Regions from separate parts of the Homo sapiens genome. Here all the other regions are linked to region 4. The links come from fine-mapping of genetic effects on gene expression. A gene starts in region 4. Each other region holds a variant in brackets. All regions are shown on one strand. Distances are between the middles of the regions. Region 1 overlaps WNT8B (Wnt family member 8B). Region 2 overlaps WNT8B (Wnt family member 8B). Region 3 has its middle 31 kb from the start of LINC02681. Region 4 holds the start of SEC31B (SEC31 homolog B, COPII component).

Evidence for each region. PIP is the estimated chance that this variant, and not a neighbour inherited with it, causes the effect.
Region 1: its variant is fine-mapped to the expression of SEC31B in whole blood (INTERVAL, PIP above 0.99).
Region 2: its variant is fine-mapped to the expression of SEC31B in whole blood (TOPMed, PIP above 0.99).
Region 3: its variant is fine-mapped to the expression of SEC31B in Th17 cells (Schmiedel 2018, PIP 0.95).

What each region holds. Positions count from the first base shown.
Region 1 is chr10:100,468,902-100,476,901 of GRCh38, forward strand. All of the region lies in intron 1 of WNT8B (Wnt family member 8B), which reads left to right. Among named protein-coding and RNA genes, the nearest start is that of WNT8B, 9.9 kb to the left of the region's middle. The variant A/G (reference allele first, on the strand shown) is at 4,221.
Region 2 is chr10:100,483,172-100,491,310 of GRCh38, forward strand. It overlaps WNT8B (Wnt family member 8B), which reads left to right. Exons shown (of 6, transcript NM_003393.4): 6 at 1-573. It overlaps SEC31B (SEC31 homolog B, COPII component), which reads right to left. Exons shown (of 26, transcript NM_015490.4): 20 at 7,535-7,712; 21 at 6,837-7,151; 22 at 6,532-6,590; 23 at 6,081-6,227; 24 at 5,687-5,803; 25 at 4,856-4,927; 26 at 3,476-4,624. The coding sequence ends at 4,445. Among named protein-coding and RNA genes, the nearest start is that of WNT8B, 24 kb to the left of the region's middle. RefSeq lists enhancers at 1,789-2,565, 1,914-3,406, 2,566-3,341. The variant C/A (reference allele first, on the strand shown) is at 4,480.
Region 3 is chr10:101,290,900-101,299,038 of GRCh38, forward strand. No RefSeq gene overlaps it. Among named protein-coding and RNA genes, the nearest start is that of LINC02681, 31 kb to the left of the region's middle. RefSeq lists enhancers at 21-560, 561-1,100, 7,269-7,338, 7,379-7,448. The variant C/CT (reference allele first, on the strand shown) is at 3,322.
Region 4 is chr10:100,516,784-100,524,922 of GRCh38, forward strand. It overlaps SEC31B (SEC31 homolog B, COPII component), which reads right to left and starts at 3,078. Exons shown (of 26, transcript NM_015490.4): 1 at 2,999-3,078; 2 at 91-214. The coding sequence starts at 169. NDUFB8 (NADH:ubiquinone oxidoreductase subunit B8) reads right to left here. Exons shown (of 5, transcript NM_005004.4): 5 at 6,957-7,146. The coding sequence ends at 7,054.

The DNA of each region.
Region 1 (8,000 bases), 48 kb before region 4:
TAATATAAGGACTACTGCTAAGATTGTCACATCTGTTTAACTTTAAAAAATTTTTTTTGTCAATTGGCTTACAAGACTTGTTTTCTCTTTTCATATTTTAGGGCACTGCATCATTATATAAAAAATTCACATTTATAAAAAACATTTTTAGAATGATTTACAGGGCTGAACTCCCTTTGAAGAAAGAAATGGACTTTAATTTGGTGAAATAGTTATGGGAATATGACCAAAAGCTACACATTCCTGAATTTTTCTTTCTATACTCATCTTGAAAAATACCTTCCTCTGGCCCCAATCTCTACTGCAATCATTTCTCCTTTCTCTTTTTTCTTTCAATGCCATCCTCCCCCAACCAGTTAGCACTAGCTACTTTCATGTCATAACTCCTCACTCTCTGCAATCTGGCTTGTGTTCTATTGCCATACTTAAATAGATCCCTCCACTGATACCAGCTTTGTTCCCTCTTGACATATTTTTAAGTAGGAGGAAATCTGATTTTGAAAGTCTGAATACTTCTCTTCCCTTTAAGACTTCAGATACCTTGTAACTTCTACCTCCTAATCCCTTCCCCTAGTTAAATAGGAAAGCCTGATTTCAATACTTTGGAATAGGTAAGAATTAGTCATGCTTTTCACCCTTGAAAAATATTTGCATTTTAAACTTAACTCTCTCAAATTGTACAGTGAATAGTTCCAAGTTCAATCCCCTCAGGTATTATCAGATAAGGTAGTGAAGAAAATTTGGGGACCAACGGGATATTATTTCACAGTTATTAGTAAGACCTACTTTCTGTGTAACTGTGTGTGTGGGCACACGTGTGAACATACCTTTGTGTCTGCTCGTGCACATGTGTTCTACAGGTCAGATGTGTGGATGCTGTGGAACAGAGACAGTCACAAGGAAACTCACTCAGAAGAGCTATCTTTGGGCTCTCCCCAGCCCAAGGCATCTTGGGAGTTCTATGGACTGAAAAGCTGCTGTCAGAACTCATTCTATGAGAAAGCTGCATCACTGGAGAACCTTCCAGCTATAGCCCCTGGCAGTTTCCCTACTCCATACCCTCCCCTTAGCCTTTAGCCCTTTGTCCTATATGCCTTCTGTGCTAAATCTTCAGATGGAGATCTATAGTTCACATTCATTCACTACCACTTCTCCTTTCCCCTGGGCCAGCACTCCAATTTCGGTAATCAGATGTCTCTCTCCTAAAGTAGACCAAACTGAGCCTCATGACTCAGAGACAATTTTTTTAAGGCAGGATCTCACTCTGTCAGCCAGGCTGGAGTGTACAATCTTGGCTCACTGCAGCCTCGACCTCCCTAGCTCAAATGATCTTCCCACTTCAGCCTCCTGAGTAGCTGGGACTATAGTGTATGCCACCATACCTGGCTAAGTTTTGTATTTTTTGTAGAGACAGGGTCTCATTGCCTTTTTAAAATATCATCATTATATCCTCTTTTCTGAGCTCCATCCCATTTATCCATCTTTATTATGATTTTTATTTTTATTTTTCGTAGAGACAGAGTCTCACTCTGTTGCCCAGGCTGGTTTCAAACTCCTGGGCTCAAGCAATCGGCCCACTTTGGCCTCCTAAAATGCTGAGATAACAGGCATGAGCCACCATGCCCAGCTGATGACTCAGAGACATTTTATGGACATTAAGAGATGGGATTAAAGGTTGGGGAGAAGCCAGAAATACTACGTAAAGATTTGTGGGGAAAGTGATGAGAGGCAGAACAAAACAAAATCACAGGGCACTAAGATGAAAGTCCTGGGTGGTAAGAGGAAAATATCAAATTCTGCAGATTCATATTCAGAATGTTTCTTATTTTCTATTTTATTTTGTTTTATTTTATTTTTTGAGACAGAGTCTCACTCTGTCGCCTAGGCTGGAGCGCAGTGGCGCAATCTCGGCTGACTGCAACCTCCGCCTCCCAGGTTCAAGCGGATTCTCCTGCCTCAGCCTCCCAAGTAGCTGGGACTACAAGTCCACACCACCACGCCCAGCTAATTTTTGTATTTTTAGTAGAGATGGGGTTTCACCGTGTTAGCCAGGATGGTCTCAAACTCCCAACCTCAGGTGATCTGCCTGCCTCAGCCTCCCAAAGTGCTGGGATTACAGGCGTGAGCCACCATGCCAGGCCTATGTTTTGTTTAGATACACAAATGCTTACCATCATGTTATAATTGCCCACAGTAGTCAGTACAATAACATGCTGTATAGGCTGGTAGCCTAGGAGCAATAGGCTCTACCATATAGCATGGGTGTATAGGAGGCTATCCATCTAGGTTTGTATAAGTACATTCTATGATGTTTGCACAGTGACAAAATCACCTAACGACACATTTCTCAAAACATATCCCTGTCATGAAGCCACACACTGTATCCCCTCCCCACCTCTGCCTACAGTGTCCTTTAGCATTTGTTTCTCCCTACTCTTTTATACATAGAACCCAGTGTGAGCAGCAACAGTGCCTAGAAAATGTGCCCAGGGGATGTCGTGCTACCCAGATAAAGCAGGGCCTGTGCCCTGGCAGATGTGGTTGTTTTGTGGACATAGAAGCAGTAGGCTGGTGTAATGAAAGGATAAAAAAGTAGCAGAGACAATGTGATAATTAACTGAGTGTATTCATGAGTGTGTGCAAAACATGGCTTAGGCCGCTCAGAAATATTTACCAAGAATTTTTCAGGAATTAGGAGTCCTGGATTAGCCAGTGGGAATAAGAGCAAGGGAAAAACGGGCTGCAGAAAAGCACAGCAGGTAGAGTGCATGCTCTAGAGTAGGACTGCCTAGGCTCCAGCCCTGGCTTCACCACTTACCTAGCTGTGTGAGGCTGGGTGGCCACTCTATGTTTCAGTCTCTGTTTCTGTAAAATGAAAGATATAATAGTTTCTACCTCATATAATTGTGATCATTATATGAACTTAAAATATGTAAAACACTTCAAAGTACATGGTCAGTCCTGGCAACACAACGAGACCCTGTCTCTACAAAAAATACAAAATAAAAATATGCCGGGCGCGGTGGCTCATCCCTGTCGTCCCAGCACTTTGGGAGGCTGACATGGGCAGATCACTTGAGGTCAGGAGTTCAAGACCAGCCTGGCCAACATTATGAAACCCCATCTCTACTAAAAATACAAAAATTAGCCAGCATGGTGGCATGTGCCTGTAGTCCCAGCTACTCGGGAGGCTGAGGTGGGAAGATTTCTTTTTCTTTTTTTTTTTTGAGATGGAGTCTTGCTCTGTCGCCCAGGCTGGAGGGCAGTGGCGCGATCTTGGCTCACTGCAAGCTCCGCCTCCTGGGTTCACGCCATTCTCCTGCCTCAGCCTCCCAAGTAGCTGGGACTACAGGCACCCGCCACCACACCCAGCTAATTTTTTGTATTTTTAGTAGCGACGGGGTTTCACCGTGGTCTCGATCTCCTGACCTCATGATCCGCCCGCCTCAGCCTCCCAAAGTGCTGGGATTACAGGCATGAGCCACCACACCTGGCCGGAAGATTTCTTGAGTCTGGACAACAGAGCAAGTCCCTCTCTCTAAATAAATAAATAAAAGTACTTCGTGTGCACAGAATAAACACTCAGTGAAAAGTATAGTACCCACCCCATGGAGTTGCTACGGAAATTTAAAAAGATGATACAGGTAAAGCACTTAGAAGAGTTCCTCACATACTTGAATAAATGCTAGTTATTATTACATGATATGATTAAACTTTATATCAGTGTATACACACACACACGTATACTGGACAGCTAACACAAGAAGAAGAAACAATTGTAAAATTTTGACTTGGCAGTGTAAAAGCACAACTAACCACAGTTATTTATGTAAATCGCTTACCACTTATGCCTAATTACTATGAAGCACAATAACAATTATGCACAGCACTAAGTGTGTCAGATTAACTTTGCTAAAGGTTTGATTATAGCACTAACCTCTGTGTACATATGCTCAGTGTTCACTCTGTTACTCTTGTAGTTGATCATCTCCTAATGTGGCACAGTCATCTGCTCACTACACTAAAAAATTAGTGGGAGCACTGGCTTGCCACAGGCTTCCTATATTTCTCAAAATCTTTTTGCAGTTCTTTTTCTCCTTACATTTTCTGCTGCATCTGATGGTCTATCTTTTTTATTTCAAAATCCTTGTATTCAATTCACTTTTATAGGCACTTACTATGTTCAAAGTACTAGATTAGGAACTGGAGGGTATACAGAG[A/G]TAATTAAGGCAGCCCATACTTAAGTATAAAAGAGGAAAGGGAAACCTTCATATGAAACAGAGAAAAGTTGCTGTGAGGCTTCAAGGTGTGCTGGTTGTGGCTTCTGCACTGGTACTTATTCAAGAATAAGTGAGATTTTTAAATAATAGCTTTATTGAAATATAATCTACATACTATAAAAGGCACCCTTTAACAAATCAATGATTTTTTTTAGCCAATTCATGGATTTGTGCAACCTTCACCACAATCCATTTTAGAACATTTTAATCACTTCAAAAAGAAACCCTTTATTTATTAGCATTCACTCCCCGTTCCTCCTCCCCTCAGTCCCTGGAAACTGTGAATCTAGTCAGTTTCCATGAGATTGCCTATGCTGGACATTTGATATAGATAGAATCATATCATTTATGGCCTTTTGTGTCTGGCTTCTTTCACTCAGGATGATATTTTCAAGGGTCATCCATGTTGTAGCTTGTATCCAGTACTTCATTCCTTTATATGGTCAAAAAATATTCTATTATGGGTTGGACATGGTGGCTCATGCCTGTAATCTTGCACTTTGGGAGGCTGAGGCAGGCGGATTGCTTGAGGTCAGGAGTTTGAGACCAGCCTGGCCAACGTGGCCAAACCCCATCTCTACTAAAAATACAAACATTAGCTGGACATGGTAGTGCATGCCTGTAATCGCAGCTTCTTGGGAGGCTGAGGCACAAGAATTGCTTGAACCCAGGAGGTGGAGGTTGTAATGAGCCAAGATGGCGCCACTGCACTCTAGCCTGTGCAACAGAGCAAGATTCTGTCTTAAAAAACAAAAAAAAAGGTGACTCTTCATGATTTTTGTCTGAGCAACTAGGAGGAACAGTCCTTTACTTAGATGGAGAAGACTACAGAAGGGGTAGGCTTGGGTGATGGCAGCGAGGATCAGGAGTTCAGTTTTGGACACGTTAAGTTTGAGATGCGTATTAAACACTGAAGGAGAGATGCCAAGAATACAGTTGGATATGCAAGTCTAGAGTTCAAGCAAATGTCTGAGAAGAGCTGGGAGGGTTCAGGAAGTCATGAACCCTTTGAATGGTCCTGAATCTGGGTAATATTGTCAGCAACTGTACAACCTCATGGGAAATGGGAAGCTTGTACCTCCATCTGGGAGTATACTGTTTTACCATGTTCTGTCTATATAGCAGCCTCCATTTGTTAAACAAAATTTATATCTTAAATTTACATCTTCAGTGTTTGTTAGCATCTTTCCTTCAATCACATAACTGCCACATAGAGGTGGCACCCATACAAACACTTAAATTCCTTCCTTTTTGGTTCTCTTTGCATCTTCTCACAATACTCACTATGTTTTCTGCAATCTATATTTTACCCCCAAAAGGAAATCATGTCATTGTTTCATTGACCAAGAACAAGATCCTCCTCCTTTGGTACTCACTACAGGACAGTCTTCTTTTTTTTTTGAGACAGAGTCTCGCTCTGTCGCCCAGGCTGGAGTGCAGTGGCACGATCTTGGCTCACTGTAAACTCCACCTCCAGGGTTCAAGTGATTCTCCTGCCTCAGCCTCCTGAGTAGCTGGGATTACAGGGGTGCATCACCACGCCCAGCTAATTTTTGTATTTTTAGTAGAGACGGGGTTTCACCATTTTGGTCAGGCTGGTCTCAAACTCCTGACCTCAAGATCTGCCTGCCTTGGCCTCCCAAAGTGCTGGGATTACAGGCGTGAGCCACTGCACCCAGCTGAGTCTTTTCTTAATATAGGATATTTTGGATATGAACAAGCTAGCCATAAGGTTCAAATATGTCTGCAAATAACTCGGAGGTTAACAACACAAGTTGGCTGGGCGTGGTGGCTCACGCCTGTAATCCCAGCACTTTGGGATGTCAAGGTGGGCGGATCACCTGAGATTGGGAGTTCGAGACCAGCCTGGCCAACATGGTGAAACCCCATCTCTACAAAAATTACAAAATTAGCTGGGTGTGGTGGCACACGCCTGTAATCCCAGCTACTCAGGAGGCTGAGACAGGAGAATTGCTTGAACTCGGGAGGCGGAGGCTGCAGTGAGCCGAGATCATGCCACTGCACTCCAATCTGGGCAAGACAGAGCAAGACTCCGTCTCAAAAAACAAACAAACAGAAAAACACAAGTCCCGGGAGGTGGAGTCTGCAGTGAGCCGACATCACACCACTGTACTCAAGCCTGAGCAAGATACAGTGAGACTCTGTCTCCAAAAACAAAACAAAACAAACAACAAAAAAAACAAAAACACAAGTCACTTTATAGGAATGTTGTCCAAATAAGGCCTATAGTGTTGTTCCATGACAGGTGCTCAATTAAGTCTCATTCATTGATCAGTTGGGCTTGACCTGGATATCATACAAATCTTTGCATATTGTAGGATCTTCCAGGAAAGAATTCTCTAGAATCTCTGTCTATTACTCCCTGTAGTTCCGGCTTAGACTCCTTTCACAGGAAGACTCTTCACCCCAGCTATGGCAAAGCATTTTCTTTGTCACTCAATTTGCTTTGTTGTTTTGTTTTCTTTCCTGATAATTTCTGTCTTATGGAAAATGGGAACTAGCTCTGTCAGGCTTGGTAATGTCCAAAATCTTTGAATGTTATTCCTAACATAAAAAGTGCCTTTCTGAGTGGGAACAAGCTCAGGCCCCTTTCCCCAAAGCAAAGGGGCCTGGCTGACTCCTCTGACATGTCTTTAAGGATCAGAAATTCATGTCCAAACCTATAATGGCTTTGGAAATTGTGAATTCATTTAAGTCATTCTGAATTGTATTTTTGTGTTTTGCTGGTGCTACTACACCTGATCAAGCAGTGCTTCTTTTCAGTTGAATTAAGGTTGCCTACCAAGCTTTAAAAAGTAGGCCTTGGTGGCTGGGCGCGGTGGCTCACGCCTGTAATCCCAGCACTTTGGGAGGCCGAGGAGGGCAGATCACGAGGTCAGGAGATCGAGACCATCCTGGCAAACACAGTGAAACCCCATCTCTACTAAAAATACAAAAAAAAAAAAATCAAAAAAAAATTAGCTGGGCATGGTGGCAGGTGCCTGTAGTCCCAGCTACTCGGGAGGCTGAGGCAGGAGAATGGTGTGAACCTGGGAGGCAGAGGTTGCAGTAAGCCGAGATGGCACCACTCTAGCTTGGGTGACAGAGTGAGACTCCGTCTAAAAAAAAAAATAGGCCTTAGTTTTGATAGACTTCATAGTATTTTTGATTTTCTAAAATTCTATTACAACTCGTTTAGAATCTTTTTCATCTCATATGGCAGCCTCTTAGTTTGTTAATACTGGTTTTCAAAAACTACTCACATTTTTGGTGTTGTATGTGTTTTTTATGAAGAAAGTCAGCCAAGCTCTTTTGGCCTGACAAGAAACTTTCTTGGTCTATTTCATTTCCAATCCCCTTTCTGGTGATGTTCAGCATCTTATTGGCCTTCAGAATTGCAGGGGTACACCAGCATGGAACAATACATAATGATTCCCGTATTACTTTCTCACATTATAATGGAAAAACAAAGATAATAGATAATAGATTCTGATTTTCAAATGCCTATACTGAAGTCATTCTCCAAGTCTTTAGCCCTGCAGATCATGTGTATATGTACATATATATTTAACTTTTTATTTTTAGATAATTATGGAGTTGCAAGACATGTACAGGGAAGAAACGTACAGGGAAGTCCCATGTACACTTGCCCCAACCTCCCCCAGTGTGAACATCTTACAACGTTAGTACGATATCCATGAAGCTTATTCAGACTTCACC
Region 2 (8,139 bases), 34 kb before region 4:
CGCAGGACCCAGGTAAAGTCAAAGCTTTGCCCTTTTGCCCACTGTCTGCTACCAGGGCTCACCCACTGCTGCACCTCTCTTCTGCACAGCTCCTCCCCTGCTACCTGCTGAGCCAGATTCCCCAGGAATCTTGAATGCTTTCTCTCCTCTTCTCCCTTTCCTTTCCCAGAAAAACTGAGGAAACTGGCCCCGGAAAAGCATGTCTTTGGGGTTGGTTCCTAGAGGCAGAGGTTGAAGATGGAAGAGGGAGCTCTGGAGTGCTAACTTGAACACCAAGGGTGCTACTCATCCCTATGGTATCATATCATGAATGGACTTTACTAGTGGGGCAATGACTTTCCTAGACAATAACCCGAGGGACTCCAGATACATACCCCGAAGGTCTAGGAAATACGTTAAGGGCAGATTACAGTCATTTCCTACCCTTTAAAGGTAACTTCTCCCTTCTCCTGACCTACTTCCTCCTAGCAACCAACTTTACCTCTTCTTCTCCAAAGGATCTTTGTTCCTCTGAGCCAAGACTGAGGTAAATAAAGCCACTTTCCTCTTCAGATCCTGGTCTGCACCTCTAGAGGCAGGTCCTAAGAAGGAGAAACTGAGACCCTTCCTTCTCACTAACCTGGTTCTCAAACAGGCAGGATTCAGAGCACTGGATATCTTCCTTCAATGAGTAAACTTCCTGCAATGAAACTGTTGCTTAGTAGGAAGTTCAGCACCTTGAACCTTAATTTATTGCAGTCATTGTGATATGTGCTCTTTTTCTAGGTACTGCACTTATTCTTGAGGATATTCGGGTGGGCTGTGGTAACAGATACAACCTGTAGGCTCTCTCCTCCCTCCCATCTTGGCAGGATACCATCCTCCCTAAAGCCTCACTTCCCTGGTGGCCCAAGCAGTTATCTGGATTGAGGCTAAGCTGCCAAGGATTAGTAAATCATCTATTTAAATCTTCTAATACATTCACTCAAGAGCCATGAGCTTGCTGCTTGTGGTACTTGAGTCTTCTGGTTTTATTCTCAGAGAGTACAGCAGGGACTTGTTTATGAAACAGAGCAAGACCTTGGGGAGGGAAGAACCAATCCCTGACAGACCCTCTGTAGCCCAAGGGGCTTCCCAGCCAGCTTCCTTGCCCTAGGACAGTCCCAGGTCTGGGGCTGGGCAGCTCTTCTAGAGCAGAACTGGTCAGATGCTAGACGACCTCAACCTTCCTCTCCCAGAGTAGGAAAAGCAGTGTGGCTGGCTCCAGGCAACAAAAGCCAAGACTCTAGGGGTTCACCTGTAAGAGTCAAGGGTTCCCGTATTCCAAACTAAGGCAATGGCCAGGTCAGATCCCAAACCCTTGGCCTCACCCACACACCTTCTGGTCTTACCAACACTTACTGAGGAGAGAGTTTCCCCTTCCTGACCGGGGATACACTTCCTTTCAGGTGTTCTTAGTGCTTCATTTCCAGCTTTCTCAGCAAAAGGCCCTTCACGCCTTCCCTCTGCTTTTATCTGAACCTCCTGAATCTCCCAACTCACCTTTTCTCCTTAATCAAGAAGCAGCATATACTAACCTACCTGTCCCACTTTGCAGAATTACTTTATAATGTACACGAAGAAAGTTTGGCAAGGCAGCTAGAAAATTTAAAAGCACAATGTTGTAAAGTAAAGCTACATTCTCCAGGTCTCTTAGCATAAAAGCAGAACTATTGTGCTTCATATTTGGTAACTCCAGGTCAGCACTCTAAATACGTCATGCCGCCAGAACATTATTTCATAGGTTATTGTTTTATACCCCCAAATGGATACCAGATTCATTCCAGTTCTACCAAGAAAACATGACTGAGATGCCTTGGATCTGTATTGCTTTTCCCTTCCTTTTGCAATATCCACTTGTTCATTTGTTCATTCAACAAACACCAGAGTAGAGATAGTGGTGAACAACCACCATTGCTGCATCACGGAGTTTAAGTTCTCATCTTACACTCAATTGCCAGGGCCGTGGTCCCTTTACAAAGTAGACAACTCCAGAACTGGTGCTTGGGAAGACATCTTTGAGGTCAGCCAGTCAAACCTTTTGTGTTACAGATTTAAACTGATGCTGAGAAAGATGACTGGCTTCTTCCCCCAACTAGTAAGTTACTGTGGGGAGAGTGCAGAGCACAGGCCCCTTCCACCTCTTGTGTGCTCTTCAGGAGCCCATCTGTCTCAGCCAGAAGACAGAAACAGAGGGAGGCCCTGAGAAGTGACAAGGACATTGGTTGGGGTGGGCAAAACACTGTCTCCTTCCTGTCCCTGGCCTGTGAGCCTAAACACAGGCAGAGCTTTTTCTTTTTGAAAAGAATCGCAGCCTCAACTGGCCTTAGCAGCAGGTTAGGGCAAAGACAGAGACGGGGTCGTCTTCGGCGCTGGTGGTGCTGGCGGTGGTGGGAGGGGAGGGCAGGCCAGGGCACTCGCCTATTGTAGGTCTGGATTGGATGCTTCCACTCATTCATTTCCTTTTAATTAACCCGCATTCCTGGAGGAGAAATATTTATGTTGGCTCCCATAGAGGCAATCCTCAGACTGGAAAGAAGGGGGAAGAAAGCCTGTCTTAGCAAAACAATATCTCTAAAGAGCTCAAGAAGAGAAAATAGGAGAACAAAATGCCATTAAAATAGCCTTCTACCCCCACTGGAGTCAATGAAAACTTCATTTCACATGCTAATCCGCCACTCCGCCCCCTTGTCTTCTCACAACACCTTTTCCGAAAGTGTTTGGGAAAAGTCTTCGCAGTCAGTACACAGCTCCCTGCAGCTCAGACTTCTCCTTGTGTTAGTTCAGGGCCCCAAGTGGGGCTCTCGCTCCAGCAGCGGCTTTTTTCTCCCCCACTTTAATTTAAACAAAGACTTCGGAGTTCATCAACCTCCCACTGAAATTCACAGCTGCTGAACAAACTAATCCCCTCTCCCGGCCTTTCTTCCCTTCAATGGGCTCTTGGCTTCAAAGACACTTTGGGAAAGGACTTTGCTAGGGCTCACACTGCTTCATCAATAGAAGTTAGTGCAAGTATTATCTGAAGAGCAAGTGGCTTTACAAACAAATACTGCCTAACAATCCCTCCCTCCCAAACACACACACATCTAGCCCGCAGACATGATGGGATCTACAACAGGATTAGGGCTAGCATCCCCTGGCTTCACACCCAGTCCCTTTGTATAGCTGAGCTCAGCCCTGAAGTGGGGTAGGGAAAACCCTGGAACTGAACACCAGGCACGGATGAAGGGAGACAATCCCCCCACCCTCAACACACCCAGCAGAGTGACCACAAATGCTGCAAGGAGAGAACCTAATTCAGTGGGAATGGACACCTTCCTTTAACTTTCTTGATTTATCTCTCCCTAAGCCTCTCCCCTGCCTTACTAGGGTGCAGGAAGCAAGAATAAAGAGGACTAGAAAGGTAATGGCAAAATAGAACCCAGAGGAGGCAATGACTGGGAGATGACAGAGGAAACCAAATCGAAGCAGCTTTATTGCACCATTAAGTACATCACTGCATCAAAGACAGTGCCACAAATGCAAATCCAATCGGAGAAGGTAGCCCTGAGACATGTGGTGGCTGCGAGGGAGAAGGACCCCCAACCCTTGAGGAGCAGCGCTGGAAGAGAATCATTCCTTAATATGGCTCCAATTCCAGAACTGGGCTTTATCATCACAGAAGGAATGGCCTTGGGCTAAGGCTCCAACATAGGTGGAGTCAAGGGCAGTTCCCCATAGGCTGTGGTTCCCCTGCTCCTGTCTCACAGCCTAAGACAGCTTCCAGCAAAAGGCAGTTCATCCCTTTCACCTTCCATCCAACCTAGCCCACCCTTAATAATGCCGGCAGATGAGAAATTCCATTTTAACAGCGCCAAAGTTTCCTCTCTTGGTTCTGCTCAGCACCCATCCCTCACGTCCATGAGTTGTTCAAAGGGTGAACAGCAGTCAGCTCTACCCCAGACCCTGGGCTACAGAGAAATACGGACCTGGAAATACCAAGTCAGAGGCAGGGAAAAGGTAAGGGCAGGCTCATAAACCACAGAAGGGAGAAACAAAAGACCCACATGATGGGTCACAGCAGAGGTAGGCTTAAAAGTAACAATCCTGTTCACCCTCTCAGAAGCCACTTAAATAGAAGATCCCTGGGGGAGAAGATATCCTGCCCCAGGTCCTTACAGAGTGTAGTATTAGGGAGAGTGAAGAACTGATTCTATGCCCTGCCTCCAGGCCTGAGAGTGTCTTGGACAGATCCTAGAAGGCCAGACATAAAGGAGTAAAAAGCAGGCACTCAGCTGGTTTGGAGCCAAGCCTACAGCATCACATACCTGGCAGCAAGGAAAAGAGTCGGGAAAAAGAAACAGAATCTGTTGCAGAAGTCCCCTCTTCTGCAGGGAGGAGTTATGTAACAGCAGAAGTGGCCTCCTAGCAAGAGAGGCTGCCTGGTTTAGACCAGCAGCTTATGAGCGATGATGAGGACAG[C/A]CTTCAGGATAGGCATGAAGCTGGACACCTCGCTGAAGCTGCTACAGCCCGCCACCTGGGCATGCACTGCAAGGCCCTGCTCAAAGCTTCCTGCATCCACACATCGGGCAACCTCATGGAGCCCAGCCACGACATGAGGTGAGAGCTGTGGAGGGAATGACCCTTAGGTTAGTGAGCCCAACCCAGCTCCTACCCTGGCAGCATGGAAGGGATAAGGGAAGACTTAAGTTCTGGGGCCCAGTCCAGGCAAGATGCACGTATTTTGTGGGGAACCCAGGTCAGTGACACCTATGGGAAGAAAAGACACTGGGCTTCCTTTGGCCATGGTGATGGTGGAAGTGTAGGAGGCAGTGGGAGCACAGCTAGCTGTACTTACTGTCCCCTCACAGAGCTTCTCATATAGATACTCCAGACGCTGGGCTGCCTCTTCCAGCTTCCTTTTTGTCTTCTGCAGGGAAAGAAATGGATTCCAACCCCAGCCCCTAAGTCTAACACCACACAGGGCCATAAAGAATCACAGCATATTAGGCCGGGCATGGTGGCTCACGCCTGTAATCCCAGCACCTTGGGAGGCCAAGGCGGGTGGATCATGAGGTCAGGAGATGGAGACCATCCTGGCTGACACGGTGAAACCCCGTCTCCATTAAAAATACAAAAAATTAGCCGGGTATGGAGGTGGGCACCTGTAGTCCCAGCTACTCGGGAGGCTGAGGCGGGAGAATGGCTTGAACCCGGGAGGCAGAGCTTGCAGTGAGCCGAGATCGCGCCACTGCACTCCAGCCTGGGCGACAAAGCGAGACTCCATCTCAAAAAAAAAAAAAAAAAAAAATCACAGCATATTAGAGCTAGAATGGCTTCATTTCACAGAGGAGGGAATGAAGGCCCAAGAAGGGTAAGTGACTTGCTCAAGCCGACACAGCCAGCAGGGGAATGGCAGACTTCCTCACTCCTGGCTCCACCCTCCTTCCAGTACCCCTGCTGCCTTTAGGTCTCAATGCTGCTGGGTCCTACCACCAAGGAGCTGGACTTCAGACCAGACTCAAAAGTCTCTCCCCAGCTCCACATGGACGTCAATTAAGTACAAGATAGAGACAGCATGTCCAGGGGCAGTGAGAAGAGAGTCACACAAGGAACTGGTCCACAGCTGAGGGGTCCTGGAGCCAGCGAGGGGTGCGAGGAGGGCACTGTGAAGAAGGTTCAGACTTACTAAGTCAGTTGCAGACAGGGAGCAGCGTTGGAGAAGCGCCTCAAAGCTGCTCTTCAAGGACTGATGCTCTGGGGGCAGCTCCTTCCTTTCCATCTTCTCAGGTGGCAGGTGCTGAAGCTGCTGATAAAGAAGCAGGGAGAAAGGCCAGAGGGGCAAGCTGTCCTTCTCATGGCTTCCCTAAGGACTAGTCCCCAGTGACTCACAGTCACACTGTTCCCATTACAGCAGAGTTGGGGAGATGAGCAGCCTCCCTTTCTCTGCAGTAAGGACACCTGGTACCTGCCCCCAGTCTCCCTCAGCACATGCCTTGAGGAATGAGGCCCATCTACCATGACCTGCACCCAAGGAGGGCTGGAAGGTTTCCCAAGGGAGGGGAATACATTGTCCTTGTCACCTGCAGGCTGAGTTCTCCTGGAACTCCTGGGGGAGCATGACTCACACTGGAGACAGGGGGCTGTGAGGGAAGAATCCCTTGTAGCTCAGGGGTGAGGCTCATAACTGGAGCAGTAATTGGTGCTGGGGGCATAAATGTCTCTGGCAGCTAAAGAGACAGAAGGAAAGACATGAGTCTAACCTGAGAGACTCCATGGCTCTGGTTTTGGGGAGTGGCAGGAATGACAGTGAACAAGGAGACAGAAGAGTGAGTGTGGGAAACTGGGAAGTGAGGAGACTGGTGTATGTGTGTAAGAGGGAAAGAGAAAGAAGAGGGTTCTGAGGAAAGAAGAGTAAGTGGGAGGAGGGCGGGGACAGTCTGAGAAGGGGAAGGACTGACTGAATCCTCCAAGGAATTAGAACGTGGTCATTGGTGAATGTGCGAGGGAGTGGGTAGGGAAAGATGCATTGACCTTGTTCCTCTGGAGGTTTCCCCTGGGGGCTGGGGCTTCTTTCCAGGAATCTTGAGGTCCTATAGAATAAAAAGATAGAGGTTTTTCGGCGCATAGTGAAAAACACTGGAAGTTTTTTATCTGAAGGCTGGAAGCATTCTTTGAGTTGGAGTTCACCATACCTCCCTCTGCAGACCATCTACACTCCCAGCCACCCTCCACCCAACAGGGCCCTAGCCCTCTGACTTGAGGAAAGACTCCCAAAGTAGTGAGAGGAGCAGGGGAGGCAATAACCCAGAAGAGGGATCCATGGAAGGAAGACTGACCTGGGTGAGGAGTCAAGATGCCAGTGGTTGGGAGGACACTAGAGCATGGGGCACCTGGGTCCCCTGGAAGGTATGGCACAGGGAAGCTTGCAGGAGGGGCTGGGGTGTGGGAGACCATGCGGCCGGGACCTAGTGGTCTCAGAGGAAGCAGAGGGAACAGTCTAGGAGTCTCAGGCAGGGAGGTAGAGCCAGGTCGCATGATGCCTGGGCATGCCATGGGTAGAGGGGAACCAGGAAGAGGCCATGTCCCAGGGAATCCCACCGGGTTAGGAACTTGCACCCTTTGCCCTCCTAATAGCTGTGGCTGAGATGAAGCTGAAGCAGAACAGAAATAGGTCATTTGTCACTAAACTTCATTTCAGGAGCAACTCAGAGCATATCAGGGAGAAACAGGATTGCAATAAAAAAATAATAAATGATTAATACATGTATATGGAAATCTATAATTTACAAAATACTTTTAACTATATTCCTTATTTGACCTTCAAAACAATCCCATAGCATTGAAATAAGCAACACAACACTTTGGTATATTGCCAAAGGTACGAAGCCAGTGATAGCATTAGGAATTCAGACTTCAACTTCCAAGCTCCTCTCACTAGACAGACATACAGCTTCCCAAATCCATGCTGGCCATGCCAATTGCTTTCCTGAGACCTCTGTGCTCTGCCCAGATAGATCTTCAGTGACTCACTCACCAGGCCTTACCCCAGGGCTCAAAGGCAAAGGCTGGATGGCCTGGGGCCCAGGTGCCCTGTAGTCACTTATATTCTGTGTCCTGGGACCCTGATAAGGGCTAGGATGGGAAGGTGCCAAGGGCATCGCTGGTGATGACTGAGGGGTGAAAACCCTTGGCCTTGGAGATGGAGTTGGGACCTATGAAGAGAAAAAAACATCAGCTCTTGGAAAGGAAAGAGAAAGGTAAATAATAGAAAACAGAAAAATAATAGGGAAAATTAATGAAACAAAAACTAGTTCTTTGAGGAAAAAAATCAATAAAATTGATAAACATCTAAAAACTGATAAAGATAAAAAGCAAGAAGATATAAATCATCATCAGAGATGAAACAGGGACTATTACAACAGACCCTGAAGCCATTAAAAATATAAACGAATACTACAGAAAACTTTACATTCATAAATCTGACAACTTATCAGAAATGGACCCATTCCTCAAGAACCATAAACTACCAAAACTCAGTCACAATGAAAGAAGATCTGGATAGTCCTATAACCATTAAAGAAATTGAGTTTGTAATTTAAAAGCTCCCAAAAAAGAAATCTCCAGGCCTAGATGGTTTCA
Region 3 (8,139 bases), 770 kb after region 4:
TTGTACTATTATTGATCTGCTTGGAGCCAAAGCTGACAGTGCCCCACTCCTGGTCTCCCCATGTTCCCATTCCCAGTGCCGCACCTCCAGGCAGTTTCTTCAGGTAATGCTCATGTGGGACTCTGTATCAGCGTTATCTGGGGGAGCTCTGACACCGGGCATGCTTCCAGGAAGCCCTGCCTCTACATACAAGCTTCTTACAATGCATGCGTGCGGGTAAACACGCTTATGTTAAAAATCTCCCTCAAGTAATTCTGCTATCCTGCCAGGTCGAGAACACTGAGCCGTCACCACCAGGCTCCCCTCTCCAGGGTGGCTAAACTTGCCATTGAGGGTGTTGGGCTGTATTTTATTTTCTCAGTTTGGGAAGGGATGAGGCCCCAGAACTGAAAAAAGGACAGTCAATGGCCAGGAACCGAATGAGTTAAAACCGGGCCCTATAGCCTTCATCCCTGGTGACTCTGGCTGGCCTCGTTAGCGCCCGCGCAGCACGCACAGAAGGACCCTTCGCGCAGGATGTCCCGGAGACTCGTCCACGCTCCCTAGCCGGGCTGCGAAGGCCCAGATCTCCCAGCGCCTCCATGCCGCGTCGGCCGCGGCCTTGGGGGTCTTCCGGGGACAGTGGCCAGCCCTGGGCCGGTGACCTAGCCTTTGGGCGCTTCCCCGGGGCTCTAGGGTCCCAGGGCGCCAGGGCCAACACCAGGAAAGCCAGAAGGTTCCTTCCTTTGGGGCAGGAGTTGGGGGGAGTCGCCGTACGCCCACCCTGCCACGCGGGAGGCCTCCGGGAGAGGGCAGAGGGCGCCGGGCAGGGACCAATCATCGGCGGCGACCGGTCACTCGCGCCCCAGCGAGGAGACCCTGAGATCCGCGGGGAGAGCACAGGGTCGCGCCGCCCCCTGGCGGCTCAATGACAGAGTTGAGGCCCGGCGGCTGGCGACTGCGGCGTCTGGCAGCTCCAGGAAAGGATCCCCCTTGTGAAGAAACGCCCCTACGAAGACTGTCCTGTCCTGTCCCTGCCCTCCCGCTCCCGCTCGCCTTCTCTCCCCTTCTTTATTTTCTCTCTTCCTCCTCCCCCCACCTCTTCCACTCTTCCTGCCCTTCCCCCCTCCCCGTCCTCACTCCCTCTCCCACCCCCATTCCTTTCTCTCGTCCTTCGCCCACCGCCTCCCGCCCCCGCGGGGCAGCGCCTCGGTGCACCCGCTTGGCAGTTAGCCCATTAGATCTCGTACTATTGATCCGCTTCTGAGCAAAAGCTGACAGCACCCCCTCCCGGGCTCCCCACGTTCCCATTCCCCGCGCCCCCCTCCAGGCAGTCCTGGCCTGCGCCTCCTCCCGCCCCCCACGCGGGCCGCGCCGAAGTCTCGCCCTCACGAAGGACGAGAACAAATGTAATTAAAGCGACCGGCGAGGGGGGTGTGCCCCCACCAACGCAGGCACGAGCGAGGGTCCCAGCGGCCGGCGCCCGGCCTGCCACCTCCCTCCCCCTCGTCCCCGCCCCCTGGAGCGGGAGCATTTGGGTTGAGCTGCGCCTGTCCTATAAATCCACATATAATTCTCCTCTTTCCTGTTCAGCTAAGGAAAATAAACGTGTAAGGCTGTTTCTGGGAGCCCAGCTCAGGGACCGCTCTAAATTCTCCTCTTATTGAGTAGGGGCTGGAAATCATTCAGCTCGGCGGCGCGCCCCAGAACCACCCCCTACCCCCGCTCCGGCCCGCGGCCGCGCCCGCGCCCGCCGCGCACACGCACGCGCGCACACGGAAGGCAGGCGCCGGGTATATAAATATCTCCAGCTCTCCCCATAGCCGGGCAGATTTATTCCGCTGCCAAGCCTGCAGAAAATTGACTTGTTCATGGAGGCGGCTATTGACACATCACCGGGGGGAGGGTTAGGGGAGAAAGCAGTGGAGCCGGCGCCCCTCCATTATACGTTAATGTAATCAGCAGTGTGCGAAATGACTGCGCGGAAAATAGCATCACTGACATTTATATTAGAGGATATTGATGGCAGGAGCTGTGACCGCATCACTCTGCCTCCCGTTTCCACGGATTGACACAGGAGCCTCTTGTTGGCTCCATCCACGCTCGCCTCCCCTCCCCCTACCTCTCCCGCCCTCTCTCTGTCTCCACCCACCCTGTGTCTCTCCAGCTCTCCCCCTCTCCGAGGAGGAGATCTCACCCCCACCCTCCCTATACACTCTTTGATCACTCATTTTCCAAATAATTCTTGAGCACCTACTGGGTGCCAGGCGCAAGGGTCTCTCCCTGTGCCTCCTCTCCCTAGGTTTCTCCCTCCCCCTCTCCCCCACCGTGCCCTTGCCCTCTTTGTCCCTCCTCCCCAGCTCTGCCTCTCCCCTCCCCCTGCCTTGGCTCGGTGGCTGGACCGCTGCTGTCACAGCAGATAGATAATTGAAAAATGGGCCTCACCTTTGCAGCCGGCAGGAGTGGTTCAGGCAGTTACCGCCGGGGTTACCTACTCCATCTCAGGCCCAGGCTCCAAAAGAGATTCTGAGGAAATTGGATTTTACATGGATGTTTTATTCGAGCAGAGGCTTTAGTGTATATAAATACAGGCGAGGAGGCCTTGGCGGCAAGGATGAGTGAGGACAGACAATCCCGCCTGGGGCCTCCAGGCTCAGGCGAGGCAGGCGGGCCATGTGCTCAGCTCCCGGTCCCAGACCTGGATATCAGCGCATTCCCCCTCATGATCTGGGACTGAAAGAGGTTAATGCTTCTGAACAGCTCCTCAAAAGCTGCCTTGGGAATAAAAGAGTGTAGTTGTTGAGAACTTGACAGGACAGTATACTGAGAAAAGAAGGAAATATACTGGAGAAGTTTGAGGACTGATTCTTTTTCTTTCTTTTTTTTCTTTTTCTTTTCTTTTCTTTTTTCTTTTTTATTTTTTGAGACAGAGTTTCGCTCTTGTTGTTCAGGCTGGAGTGCAATGGCATGGTGTCAGCTCACTGCAACCTCCGCCTCCCGGGTTCAAGTGATTCTCCTGCCTCAGCCTCCCGAGTAGCTGGGATTACAGGCATGTGCCACCACACTTGGTTAATTTTGTATTTTTAGTAGAGACGGGGTTTCTCCATGTTGATCAGGCTGGTCTGGAACGCCCAACCTCAGGTGATCCGCCCGCTTCAGCCTCCCAAAGTGCTGGGATTACAGGTATGAGTCACAGTGCCCGGCCGAGGACTGATTCTTTCAATAAATATCTATTGAACCTTTAACTTTTGAAGTATTGAGTTTGAGGCACAGGAGTGAGTAAGTTATGGCTGCTGCCTTCAAGAACAGTCTAATAGTTTGGAGAATGACACTGGGGGTTTC[C/CT]TTTTTTTTTTTTTTTTTTTTTTTTTTCAGAGATGAGGGTCTCACTATGTTGCCCAGGCTGGACTTGAACTCCTGGTCCCAAGCGATCTTCTTGTCTCAGCCTCCCATCTAGGGTTTCTGGTTATGGATAAGGAAAGGGAGAGTGAGAAAGCAGATGCTGAGATTGCTTTTCTAGGGCATGACCAGCTGGGGAGCTTGAATGAAGAGGCAGGAGGGAAAGTGGTCGGATTGGGGCGATAAAGGACCTAACTCTCCAGTCTGCTCTCTGAGCCTGGTTAGCAAAGCATCTAGGGAACTTGGACAATGGTGGACAATGAATCTATAGGCAAGATCACATCCAAAGTGTTTGCAAGGAATCCTGGTGAGATTCTCTGGAGGGCCAAGATGAAGGATCATTGAAGACCAAGGTGAGGCCCTCCAGAGAGACCAGGTAGAAGGTGGGAAGAGGACCTTTGCGGGAGGCCTAAATTGAAGGCACTTGGGCAAATGAGGGGCATCAGAAGACCAGGGAGATGGGATGTGGGTGTGGAGCGGGAGGAGGCAATGCCTGGGGACCTAGGATAAAGATTCTTTTGGCCGGGCATGGTGGCTTACGCCTGTAATCCCAGCACTTTGGGAGGCCGAGGAGAGTGGATCACCTGACATCAGGGGTTCGAGACGAGCCTGGCTTACATGGTGAAACCCCATTTCTACTAAAAATACAACAAATTAGCCAGGCATGGTGGTGCACACCTGTAATCCCAGCTACTCAGGAGGTTGAGGCAGGAGAATCGCTTGAACCTGGGAGGCAGAGGTTGCAGTGAGCTGAGATCGTGCCATTGCAGTCCAGCTTGGGCACAAGACGGAGCGAAACTCCATCTCAAAAGGAAAAAAAAAAAAAAAAGATTCTTCCAGGGCCTGAATGTCCCCTACCCCATAGGAAGGTCTACATTTCATTCCTGGGCAGGGTCTTTTCTGTGCCCTGTTTGATCTCTGATTAGAGTCTATGTGGCTGACAGGTGCAGCGCAAATCATTTCTGTTCCTTGGAAGGAGAGTCATGAGCCATCCCATGATTAAAGGACTGGAATGAAGATGAGCGGACCCAGGCTCAGACTGCTCACTGAAGGGATAGGGGCTTCTTCTGAGCTCACAGCACAGACAACAGCTGCCTTATCCCAGCCATATCGCTGAAAGCTGGACTGTTCCTCCCCCAGAGAAACATTACAAAACCCCCCTTGTCCTCTGCCACATTGTTATACTGTTACATCATCCGCTTTGGGGGCAGGACAGGTGCTGGATAGATGATGGCCATCCCTCCAGCTGCCCCACACACATCCCAGGCACTCCCAGATGGCACACTGGGAACTCCAGTCCAGCTGTAGGATGGGAGTATTCTGCGGTAACTGGACTCCCTCTCAGAACTCTCCCTGTCTGACTGCCATCAGCATCTTCCCTCTCACCTACAGATTTCATTCATCCTGACAGCCCAGTGGAAAGGGAGCCCCTTTCCACCCATCAGGGAGCCAGAACACTCCCACTTACCTTAGTTACCTGTGCCACCTCCTTCCCTTTGCCCTCAGTGAACCACAGGAACTCATGTCCTATCTGTCTCCCAGATCAACTCCTGTATTTGTCTTCCTTTCCTTGTGACTCATTTGAAACATGGATGCAGAGATTCTGGTCTTGCTCCTAGCTTAAGACCCTGCTGTGGTGTTTGTTTCCCTCCAAAATTCATGTTGAAACTGAATCCCCAACGCAATAGCATTAAGAGGTGGGGCCTTTAGGAGATGCTTAGGTCGTGCCCTCACAAACAATATTAGTGCCCTTATAAAAGGGCTTGAGGGAGTTGTTTGCCACTTTTCCCCCTTCTGCCGTGTGAGAATGCAGCAAGAGGTGCCACGTATGAAGCAGAGAGATATCCTTTACCCGACACCAAATCTCCTGGCCCCTTGATCTTGGACTTTCCACCTCCAGAACTGTGAAGAACAAATTCCTATTATTACTATTATTATTATTATTATTATAGAGTCTCACTCTGTAACCCAGGCTGGAGTGCGGCGGCGTAGTCTCAATTCACTGCACCCTCCACCTCCTGGCCTCAATCGATACTTCCACCTCAGCCTCCCAAGCAGCTGGGACTACAGGCACCTGCTACTACACCCAGCTAATTTTTTTGTATTTTTTGTAGAGATGGGGCTTCACCATGTTGCTCAGACTGGCCTCAAATTCCTGGGCTCAAGCAATCCTCCCACCTTGGCCTCCCAAAGTACTGGGATTACAAGCATGAGTCACCATGCCTGGCCTGAATTTCTATTATTTATAAATTACCCAGTGTCAGGTATTTTGTTATGGCTGCAGAAATAGATTAAGACAGACCCCTTGGCTGGGCACGGTGGCTCACACCTGTAATCCCAGCACTTTGGGAGGCCGAGATGGGCAGATCACGAGGTCAGGAGATCAAGACCATCCTGGCTAACACGGTGAAACCCCGTCTCTACTAAAAATATAAAAATTTAACGGGCAGGTGCCTGTAGTCCCAGCTACTCAGGAGGCTGAGGCAGGAGAATGGCGTGAACCTGGGAGGCGGAGCTTGCAGTAAGCCAAGATCGTGTCACTGCACTCCATCCTGGGCAACAGAGCAAGACTCTGACTCAAAAAAAAAAAAAAAAAAGACAGACCCCTTGAACAGGATGGCGATGAGAACATGAGTGCATGCATATACATGTGTGTGCATGCACATGTGCTCCCTTGAGCATTGCAAACCCAGGGAATAAGTGACACCATTCAAGGAACCGCACTCGGTCTCACCTTGCCATCCAATTTAGGAAATTGACATTCGTTAGAAAAATAAAGGAGCAGCCAGGGAAGTGGCTTCCCACAGCAGGAAGGATGCTCCTCAAGGCTTTATGAAGATGGGCTTCTGGGAAGTCATTCCTCCAGGAACATCTGCCCGATAAGCCATCAGAGAGGACTCAGGGAAATGGGGGGTTGAAGGTACTGGAAAACGGAGCCACATATAATTCAACCATTTCTTGAGATTTGGAATCTGTCCTTTCTCTCTCCCCATGTAGAGGCCAGGTAGATGTAGGGTGCAAAGGAGAATGAACCTTTGAAAGGTGGCTACTCTGCTTCTGGGGGGCCAAGGAAGCCAGCAGGAGCTGGGAAGTTAAGGTCTAGGTGGAGAAGCCAAGCTTGGCAGAGGAGTGTTTCCAACTTTAGCAACAAAGCCAATCTGAGCTGTGTAACTGAGGTGAAAGTCACTTCACCACTCTGGGCTTCAGGTTCCTCATCTGTAAAATGAGAAAAAATAAGATTTCTTTCCGTTCTAGTTTCTGTGATTCTAAACCGATGGGTGAGTGTGATTGGAGAGCCCAGGTTTAGGATGAAAGAAGGAATTTCAGGGCTGAAGATCCAGATTCTTACAAGAGGGATGAACAGAGGTAATTGCAGGGCCAGCGGGGCCTGACATTCATCAGAGGACTGTTGGTGGCTGGGAACCTGCCAGGGCCAGGACAAAACAGAGCATAAAATCAGCCCGACCCTGGGGCAGAGAGAAGGCAGGGATGGATCTAGAAAGCATGCTACCTAAATTGTTTCAAACTCAGACTCTTTGCTCAGAATCTGGCTCATACAGCCCAGAGATCATGGGTAGAAACTCCAAGTGGCCAGGCAGGTGTCCATCAGCCTAAGCAACATAAAATCTGTGCACTCTCACGTTCTGTGCTTTAGAAGGGAATGAGTGGGAGGTGAGGGTCTTTGCTTTGTTTCCCCAGAGTTTCCTAATACGGTTTCCTGCTTGAGAAATGTTAGCATCACCTTGGCTGGATGGAGAGGGGATCAGGGCGCCCCTAGTGGTGGAGGCTGGTGGTTGGCAGAAGCGGCACCTCCTTAAGACTTCACTAGAGGAGCACGGGATAAAGTGTGAAGCAGCTGGAGGGAGGCCGAGGGGCACAGAGCCTAATGGAGGCAATCCCTCCGCCCTGTTTTGACTCAGGGCAAGATGAAACAGGGCAGGTGGCCAGGGAGAGTTGGAGCAGAAAGCTGCCTTGGAGGATAAATGCCTAGAGGGAAAAGACTAGAAGCCCAGAGCACAGGCAGCCAGCAGGCAGCAGGCAGGGGAGGAGAGGTGAGAAGGGAGGGAAGATATCCCTTTCCACGGATGTGCCTTGGCCCCTGCCCAGGCAAAGAGGGGCAGATTTTCCGTCTTGTCCCAAGCCCCTGCATCTGCCACCTTGTTTACCTCCTGCCTATTTATAGTTGCAAATTCCAAGCCTGGCATGGGACTCTGCGATTTATATGACTATAAACCTTCAAAGGGCACTGAGGGCTGGCGGGGAATGGGTAAAGACAGGGGCAGGCCTCGCAAGGTCAAAATACTCAGTCTCCCACCCCCACTGTCCTGACATCCTACCTCCTCACAACAGGTTGAAAGGCCAGGCTCACGCAAATAAGAAAATGGGTAGGAAGCCACAGTCGCCGCTGACTCTTCCTACCCTAAGCTTGTCCAGTTTAGGATTTAGAGCAAGGCAGAGCATGTCCTGGGTCCTGGAACATGGTGGGGGAAAAGAAGAAAAACAATAGAGCAAAACAGAGAGAACCTGTTTTAGTCTCCCTGGCCCCTTTTGGGAGGGGGTAGGGAAGCTCAGTGTGGGAGAGTGGATCTCATCAAGGACAATTGAATTTGGAGAGAGTGGGTGAGTCCAGGCTTTCGAGGGAGAGGGGAAATTGGGATCAGCAGCCCAACTCCCACCTACCCCATCCACTTAACAGCAGAGGGGAAGAAGAATGAGACCTGGAGCACTCCTGGCCTCTGGCTTCCTTCTGGGGGTGCCTTTGGA
Region 4 (8,139 bases):
TTCTCTGATGTTCAATAAATAATTCTAGATACTAAGTTTCCCCTCAACTTATGTACTCCCAGTGGATCCTAATTCACAGTGTCACCATACCTGTGGCCAGATACAAAGGGTATTGGCTGGCTGGGCTCCATGCCTGGACAGCTGGCCGCTCAAGTTCCTTCAGCTTCATGGTCTATCCTGTAGGTGGCAGAAAACTGACATGGCCCTCAGCCCACTGAAAATAGAAACCAGCAAACTTAACAGCCAGATCCAGGGAGCATCTGCGGACAAGAGTTCTTGTTTGTCTTTCTCCATCACAAGATAGGGCATTTCAGGGCAACACAGAGTGACAAATACATGACCATCTGCAGATCTAAAGATAGTTCATTCACCCAATTACTGAAATGTAATGCTTTAAACCTCAAATGATACTCAACCACAATGGCTACCACAGGTCCAGTGGTGATAACCATCAAACCAGACAATCTCTCAGTGATGTTTGTCCATTTCCTTGGCTTTAAATAGCACCCATATGCTGATGATCCCCAAATTTATATCACCATCACAAATCTCTCCTCTAAGCTCCAAGTTCTTATATGCAATTTCTTTTCGTTTTTTAGACCAAGTCTTGCTCTGTCACCCAGGCTGGAGTGCAGTGACACGATCTCAGCTCACTGCAACCCCTGCCTCCTGGGTTCAAGTGATTCTCCTGCCTCAGCCTCCCGAGTGGCTGGGATAACAGGCATGTGCCACCATGCCTGGCTAATTTTTGTATTTTTAGTAGAGACGTAGTTTTACCGTGTTGGCCAGGCTGGTCTCGAACTCCTGACCTCAAGTGATCAGCTGCTTATACGCAATTTCCAATCAAATATTTCACTTGGATATAGTAGATACTTAATGGGGGAGGGAACTCCCATTTTAGTCTGTCTAAAATGGAGTTCTCTATTCTACCATCTTTTATGGTCTTTTTTTATTTGTTTTTTTCAGAAAGGAGCAAAGTCACAATCTCTTCTGTTCTTCCTCCAGTTTTTTTCATCTTGGTAAATGGTTCCACTATCCACCCAATTGCTCAACCCAGAAGCCTGAAAATCCCTCTTGATCCCTCCTTCTCCCTCATTCTCTTCTAATCCATCATTTAGTCTCCTTGATTTAACCTCCAAAATATATCTCAATCTGTCTACTTTTCTCTATTTTCGCTGCCAACAGCCTTTTTGATTGTATCATCTCTCACCTGGAGTACTCCAACAACCTCCCAACTAGCTATCCCCTTTCTACTCAAGCCATTACCCAATTCGTTCTTTACACAGCAGCAGGAGTGAACTTCTAAAATAAAAAATGATTTTGGCATTCCATGCTTAAAATCTTTCAATGATTTCTATCACACACAGAATAAAATTCAAACTTCTTTGAGCCCTGCCCAAAGGCTCCAGCCTACCACTTCAACTTCATCTTTTAATACTTTTCTCATTCATTGTGCTTCAGCCACACTAGCCTTTAATTTCCTGACATTTTCCTTCCTTAGAGCCTTTACAAATGCTGTTCCCTATACTTTGAATGCTCTTCCCTTCACTTTCGACATGACTGGCTCCTTATATCTTTCTGGGCTCAGCTTACTTCCCCAAATAAGTGAACTACCCAATCACAAAAAGCCTCAGTTTTTTTCTTCCTAGTAATTTATAATTACATATTTATTTATATTGACATTGTCAGTCTCTTCCACTAATATGCAAGCTCCATGAGAGCTGACACTGTGTCGGCTTTTGTTCACCATGTTGTAACTAGTTTCCAAACGAATGTCTGGCATATGGTAAAAGCTCGAATGTGGACATCCATTTTAACTCTGTGGTTTCTGATCTAATTCCAATGTATATTCAAGGTCCCATCCCAACAGGCTAGCAAACAGGTAGAAATGATTTTTAAAAATTACACTGAACTTGAGGAGAAAGCTTGGGACCTACTGTGACCTGCTTGAGTAAGCTATAGTCAGATCAGTCTCACCTACAAAAACAGGAGATAGTATTACTTAATCTCTAAGGTACTTTCTAGCGTGAAGAAAGTTTAAGCCTGCCCATTAAGCCAAGATTTCCAAAGCACCTTTAAACACTTGTGGCTACTATCACGTATTCTGTGACCAGCTCAACACTCTACTATACAGTCACCAGTGCCACCTGCTGGTCACAGCCATTTTAATGTTTCTGGGAAAAGATTCCCTAACAACAAAAATAGGAGCTGCGATAAGCAGCTGTGCATTTGATGTGCATATCTCAGTTAATTCTCTCAGTGGTCTTATCAGGTAAGTACTATGATTATCCCCATTTTCTAGAGATGACAACTGGCTAGGCCGGGATGTGAACCCCCATCAGCATCAAGAGCCCGTATTTCTAACCACTGTACTAGTCGCAAGTAAACCCTAGAAAGTGTTTTAATCGCTGACAGTCTAGGAACTGGGAAAATGGGCTCTTAATTCACATTGTTAAGAGGCATCTATTCACAAAAAAAGGGCCCCCGCTGGGGTCAGATTGGCCATGGGGGCGTGAGGGGGAGATGACCAATGAAATGCTCGACAGACCTGCCGTGCAGGAGGGCACCAGCTACCCTTGGCAGTCCAGTCCCTAGGGAGGACGGTCAGCACAGCCTCTTTCCCGCTGTCGCCGAAGCGCGGCGCGCCAGGGTCAGCAATGACAGACCTTCCCGCCCAGCCCAAACGCAGCGACACCGGACGGCCTCGGCTGGGCCAGGTCAGGACCAAGGCGGATGGGAAGGCGCAAGGCAGCAGTGAACAGGGAGACCCTCATCCGGCTGGGGGTTCCCGTGCGGCAGGGACAGTAGAGCCGGATCCAATTCAAGGGTAGACGTAGTGGAGGCCCCCGAGGCCCGGACCCGCGGGCAGGGCAGGCGCGGGCCGGGGGCTCCGCAGCAAGCGGGCTCCCCTCCGCGCTCTGCCGAGAAAGGAGCAGTGCTCCGGGTCCCCAGCGCAATCTCTGCTACCAGGGACCCCAGACCGGCGGGGCGAACCAACCTGTGCGGAAGACCCCGGACAAGGGTCAGGCGCGGCGGCCGGAGCCGCTCCTCTGGCAGGGCTCTCGCGCGGAGCCGGGCGCTGTGGACGGCGGCTGCGGAGGACCAAAGCGGCGCGGACCCCGGCAGGGCACCGTCGGAAACACGCTCCGCGGGCGCCGAGCCCGAGACACTGACAGACCCACGGAGAACGTTTCCAAACAGGATTATAGCTTTTAACCGGGCCTCCCTCACCTACCCTGTGATTGCGCAGCGGGTCAGATCTGGACCAGTAAGTTCTGGTCTATTCAGTTTGAGCCAGGCTCTAGGGCCAGTCTCTGAAAAGGGAAAATACTAACTCATTATCTATGTATTGAAGCGGGAGAAGACCCGGCCCTGGCCCCAGGAGCCCTCAGTGGAATCCATTTAGTTGAAAACGTAAAAAGCAATCGAGGCTGTAAATGGCAGTGAGTGTTGCACTGCAGCCCAGCAGAAACTGGTGCCCAAAACTTGGTTGAATTAAGGGCTATAAGTGTATGGAGGGTGAGACTACAGGGCCAGGGGCTTCCTGAAATATTTGAGGAACATAGGAGGGGTGTTATCCTCTGGAGCTGCAAGAACACAGGTGATATTCCAGCCGATAATGTATTTTTTATGTTGAAGAAATTGTGCCACTTCCAAATAAAAATGTTCTGTAGACAGGTCGGGTGCAGTGGCTCACACCTGTAATCCCAGCACTTTGGGAGGCCAAGGTGGGCATATCACCAAAGGTCAGGAGTTCGAGACCAGCCTGGCCAACATGGTGAAACTCCGTCGCTACCAAAAATATAAAAATTAGCCGGGCATGGTGGTGCAGGCCTGTAGTCCCAGCTACTCACGAGGCTGAGGCATGAGAATAGCTTGAACCCGGGAGGTGGAGGTTGCAGTGAGCTGAGATCACGCCACTGCACTCCAGCCTGGGTGACAGAGACTCCATCTCAAAAAAAAAAAAAAAATTCTGTAGGCAGCTTTAAATCTTAGAAACTTATGCTTAACGCATGAATTCTCTGTATTCCTGCCTGATACACCTCCAAAGATGGGGGGCCAGTTATCATGATGGAGCCCAACTCATTGTGACACGACTCCAGTTCCCTTCCATGTGGATCTGGCAATTTTGAAGTTAGACAGAAGGTAATTCAGTGCATTATCTGTGCCTAGCCCACGCTTCCTACCTACTAAGTACTCAAGTATTTCCTGAACTTCTTAGCTGGCACAACAGGGAATGAAGCCTGAGGAAAAGTAAACAGGGTTAAAAACTAAACCTGAGAGAAGGAGGCAGAAGAGTTACTGATGGAATACTCCTAAAGAAATTTGAACCAGAAGCTTAAGTCACAGTTTCGGGTAGGACATGATTAAGCCAAATTAAAAGTGCACTTTCTCAACTCACACCTCTTAAGAATTCTTGCTGGGAGCAGTGGCTCATGCCTGTAATCCTAGCACTTTGGGAGGCTGAGGCGGGCAGATCACTCGAGGTCAGGAGTTCAAGACCAGCCTGACCAATATGGTGAAACTACATCTCTACCAAAAAATACCGAAAAAATTGGCTGGGCGTGGTGGCATGTGCCTGTAATCCCAGCTACTCGGGAGGCTGAGGCATGAGAATCACTTGAACCTGGGAGGCAGAGGTTGCAGTGAGCTGAGATCATGCCACTGCACTCCAGCCTGGGTGACAGAGTGAGACCATGTCTCAAAAAAAAAAAAAAAAAATTCTTTTTGGCCTGGCATAGTGGCCCACACCCATAATCCCAACACTTTGGGAGACCAAGGCAGGTGGATTGCTTGAGCCCACAAGTTTAAGACCAGCCTGGGCAACATGGTGAAACCCTGTCTCTACAAAAAATACAAAAATTAGCCAGGTGTGTTGGTGCATCCCTGTGGTCCCAGCTGCTTGGGAGGCTACAGTGAGAGGACCGCTTGGGCCTGGGAGGTAGAGGCTGCAGTGAGCTGTGATCACACCACTACACTGCAGCCTGGGCAACAGCGTGAGACCCTGTCTCAATAGTAATAATGATAAAGAATTATTTTCACTTTGTATTATAACTGCTGGTCTCCTATGTAATATTTGAAGGTGATTACTTTGTCTTGCTCAGTTTTATATCTCCAGGGCTTATCAGTGTTTGATACATATTAGACACACAGGTGTTTGTTAAGGAAATGATTATCAAATGCTATAGAGAATGAAGACAGATAAAAAGCCAGTGGGGACCTTCAAAGAATAGCATTCCACAAGTATCCACTCCCTGACCTCACAAAAGGTCTCTCACTGCCTGCACAACTAAGACTCCACATCTAATTTGAATGAACTTGCTTCTTTTGGTCACATAAAATGTATGCTTTTCTATGGGACAGGTTTTCCGGCAATATACTGTAACTTAAGAATATGTCCCCAAAGGAATATGGGTTGGTTCACTTAAAAATAGACATGAGGGCTGGGTACAGTGGCTCCTGCCTGTATTCCCAGTGCTTTAGGAAGCTGAGGCAGGATTGCTTGAGGCCAGGAGTTTGAGCCAGCCTGGGCAACATAGCAAGATCCCACCTCAACAAAAAATAAGAAACTTAGGTTCGTACATCCCAGTAATCCTAGCTACTAGGGAGGTTGAGTAAGGAGGATCCCTTGAGCCCAGGGGTTTGAGGCTACAGAGAGCTATGATTGTGCTACTGCACTTCCACCTGGGGAACAGAGGAAGATCCTATCTCTAAATAAAACAAAAAACAGATGAATGATAGACTCTCAAAAACATAGTTTTTCTCTAAGACTGTTATAGGAGTGTGGATGAGTCATCAAAAGTAATCAAAGCTATGAACATGTTCAGTAGTAACTCACTGACTGTCCTCCAATTCATAAATACAGGTAATGTCAACTTATTAAGAAGCTATGATTCAGAAGCTGCTTTGGAATAAGGAATATTCTTATAACGGAAATAAGATCAGAGGCAGTCGCAGCCTTAGGCAGACAGGACAAAAACACTTATCAGTCCTGTAATATACTTGAAACACGTTAGAGCACATTTTTTTCCAAGTAACCACTATTATTAAGGAGTTTTTTTTGTTTTTTTTTGTTTTGAGACGGTCTGGCTCTGTCGCCCAGGCTGGAGTGCAGTGCCACCATCTCACCGCAACCTTGACCTCCTGGGTTCAAGGGAGTCTCCTGCCTCAGCCTCTGGAGTAGCTGGGATTACAAGCATACACCACCAAGCTTGGCTAATATTTTGTATTCTTAATAGAGACGGGGTTTTGCTGTGTTAGTCAGGCTAGTCTTCAACTCCTGGCCTCAAGTGATTCACCCGCCTCGGCCTCCCAAAGTGCTGGGTTACAGGCTGAGCCACCACGCCATGCCAAGGTTTTTTTCGAGACAGGGTCTTGCTGTGTTGCCCAGGCTGGAGCAGTGTTGCAAACATGGCTCACTGCACGCTCCTGGGCTCAAATGATCCTCCCAGCTCAGCCTGCTGCACAGCTGGGACCACAGGCGCGCACTGCTGTGCCCAGTGAATTTTCTGAAATTTTTTTTTGCAGAGATGGGGTCTCGTCATGTTGCCCAGGCTAGTCTCAAAGTCCTGAGCTTCAAGCAATCCTTCCACCTCAGCCTCCCAAAGTGTTGGGATAATAGGCGTGAGCTACCAGACCCAGACTAGAAAGGTTTTTTATGTGAAATAAATCTTGTTCCAACTTGGAAAGTTAGGAACATTTCTTCCTTGACCCTGTAAATGGGAAAAGGAGGGACCCTTAACACCTCCACACAGCTAAAACCCTTAAGTACCTTTACAACCCAAGTGAAATTAACAAATTAACATTTTGTGCCTAAGTCCCCATCCACCCCACCCTCTTATCCTTTAAATTTCAGAAAAAGAAAACAGGGAAGACAGCAGACATCAAGCAGAAAAAAAGGGAAAAGGATGAGGTTCCTCAAGGCAGTGACTATTCCTGGGGAAATGAGGCACAAATAACACAGCACTGAGTTTTATTAGGGATTTCATTAAGGTTAAATTTCTAGGAATGAGGGAGTCCTAGTTAGAGGACCCAAAAGCCCACGAAGCCTCCTCAGATCTCATAGTGAACCACCCGCTCTGGTTCTTTGGAGGGATCACCGCCTCGTTCCAGGTACAGATTATTGTAAGGATACTGCTTTGGTCCCTACAGAAAAAAACACAGGTCAGCAAGAACATACATTCAGTCAATACCTGGCTACACCCCACTCTGAGTTAACAATCACGCATGGTAAATGGGTACACAGTAGCCTCTGGTCAGACCCAGCTGGGCTAGGAAGGCAGGAACAGCACTCCTCTTCCTCACTCAGCCCAAGGCAGAGAGAAAGCCTAAATTGTAAGAGAAGTGGTGCCTACACTGTGAGAGAGAAGGAGAAAGGGGGAGGGAAGGGGGTTAGGGAAAGGAGGGGAAGGGAGGAAGACAGGGAGGGAGGTAAAGAAAGAGAGAAGAGTGTGTTAGAGTCAGAGGCAACACTTTCTAAATGAGACGATGCATCCATCCATCCCACTCTCTCTCGGGGTCGAGACAGACTCAATCTCCTTTAAGTCACTCAGCCTCTAATGGTTCCACCACTAAAGTGGCCCAGCAAATGAGGCGTGCAGCAGCAGTGGTGGGGGAAAGCACAGAGGAGACAAGGCTGGGACGTGCTTTAGGGGCTGCTGGCTTTACCAACAAACAGCTGTCAGAGAACACAGCTCAAGGGGAGGAGAAAAGGGTGATGTGCTTACAGAACTGAAAAATGGAAGAGCCACACTGTTCCTTGCTCTCCTGAAGTGAAGTTAGTGCTCACCCTAGCCCTACGTGCATTCTCCAGCATGGAGCCCCTGGGGCTTGGTAGGAAGGCTCGTGTCAGTGCACACAGACATACCAGCTACCTTCAGGACATTGATTGTCTCTGCAGAGGTAGCACTGGGCAGCCAACTGCAAACACAGCAGCCTCCCTGCTTTCAGCTTCTCTCCTTCCAGTACATCCTGGAGACTACTCCTGGATTAATCTTCCTAAGAACTCAGCATTCATTATGTCACTTTTCTGTTCGAAAACCCAAAATGGCTCCCTGCCACCTAGAGGCAGACCAAGTCATCACTGTATCCCCAACCGCTAGCACAGTCTGCATCTGGTACATAGTACAGGCTCCATAA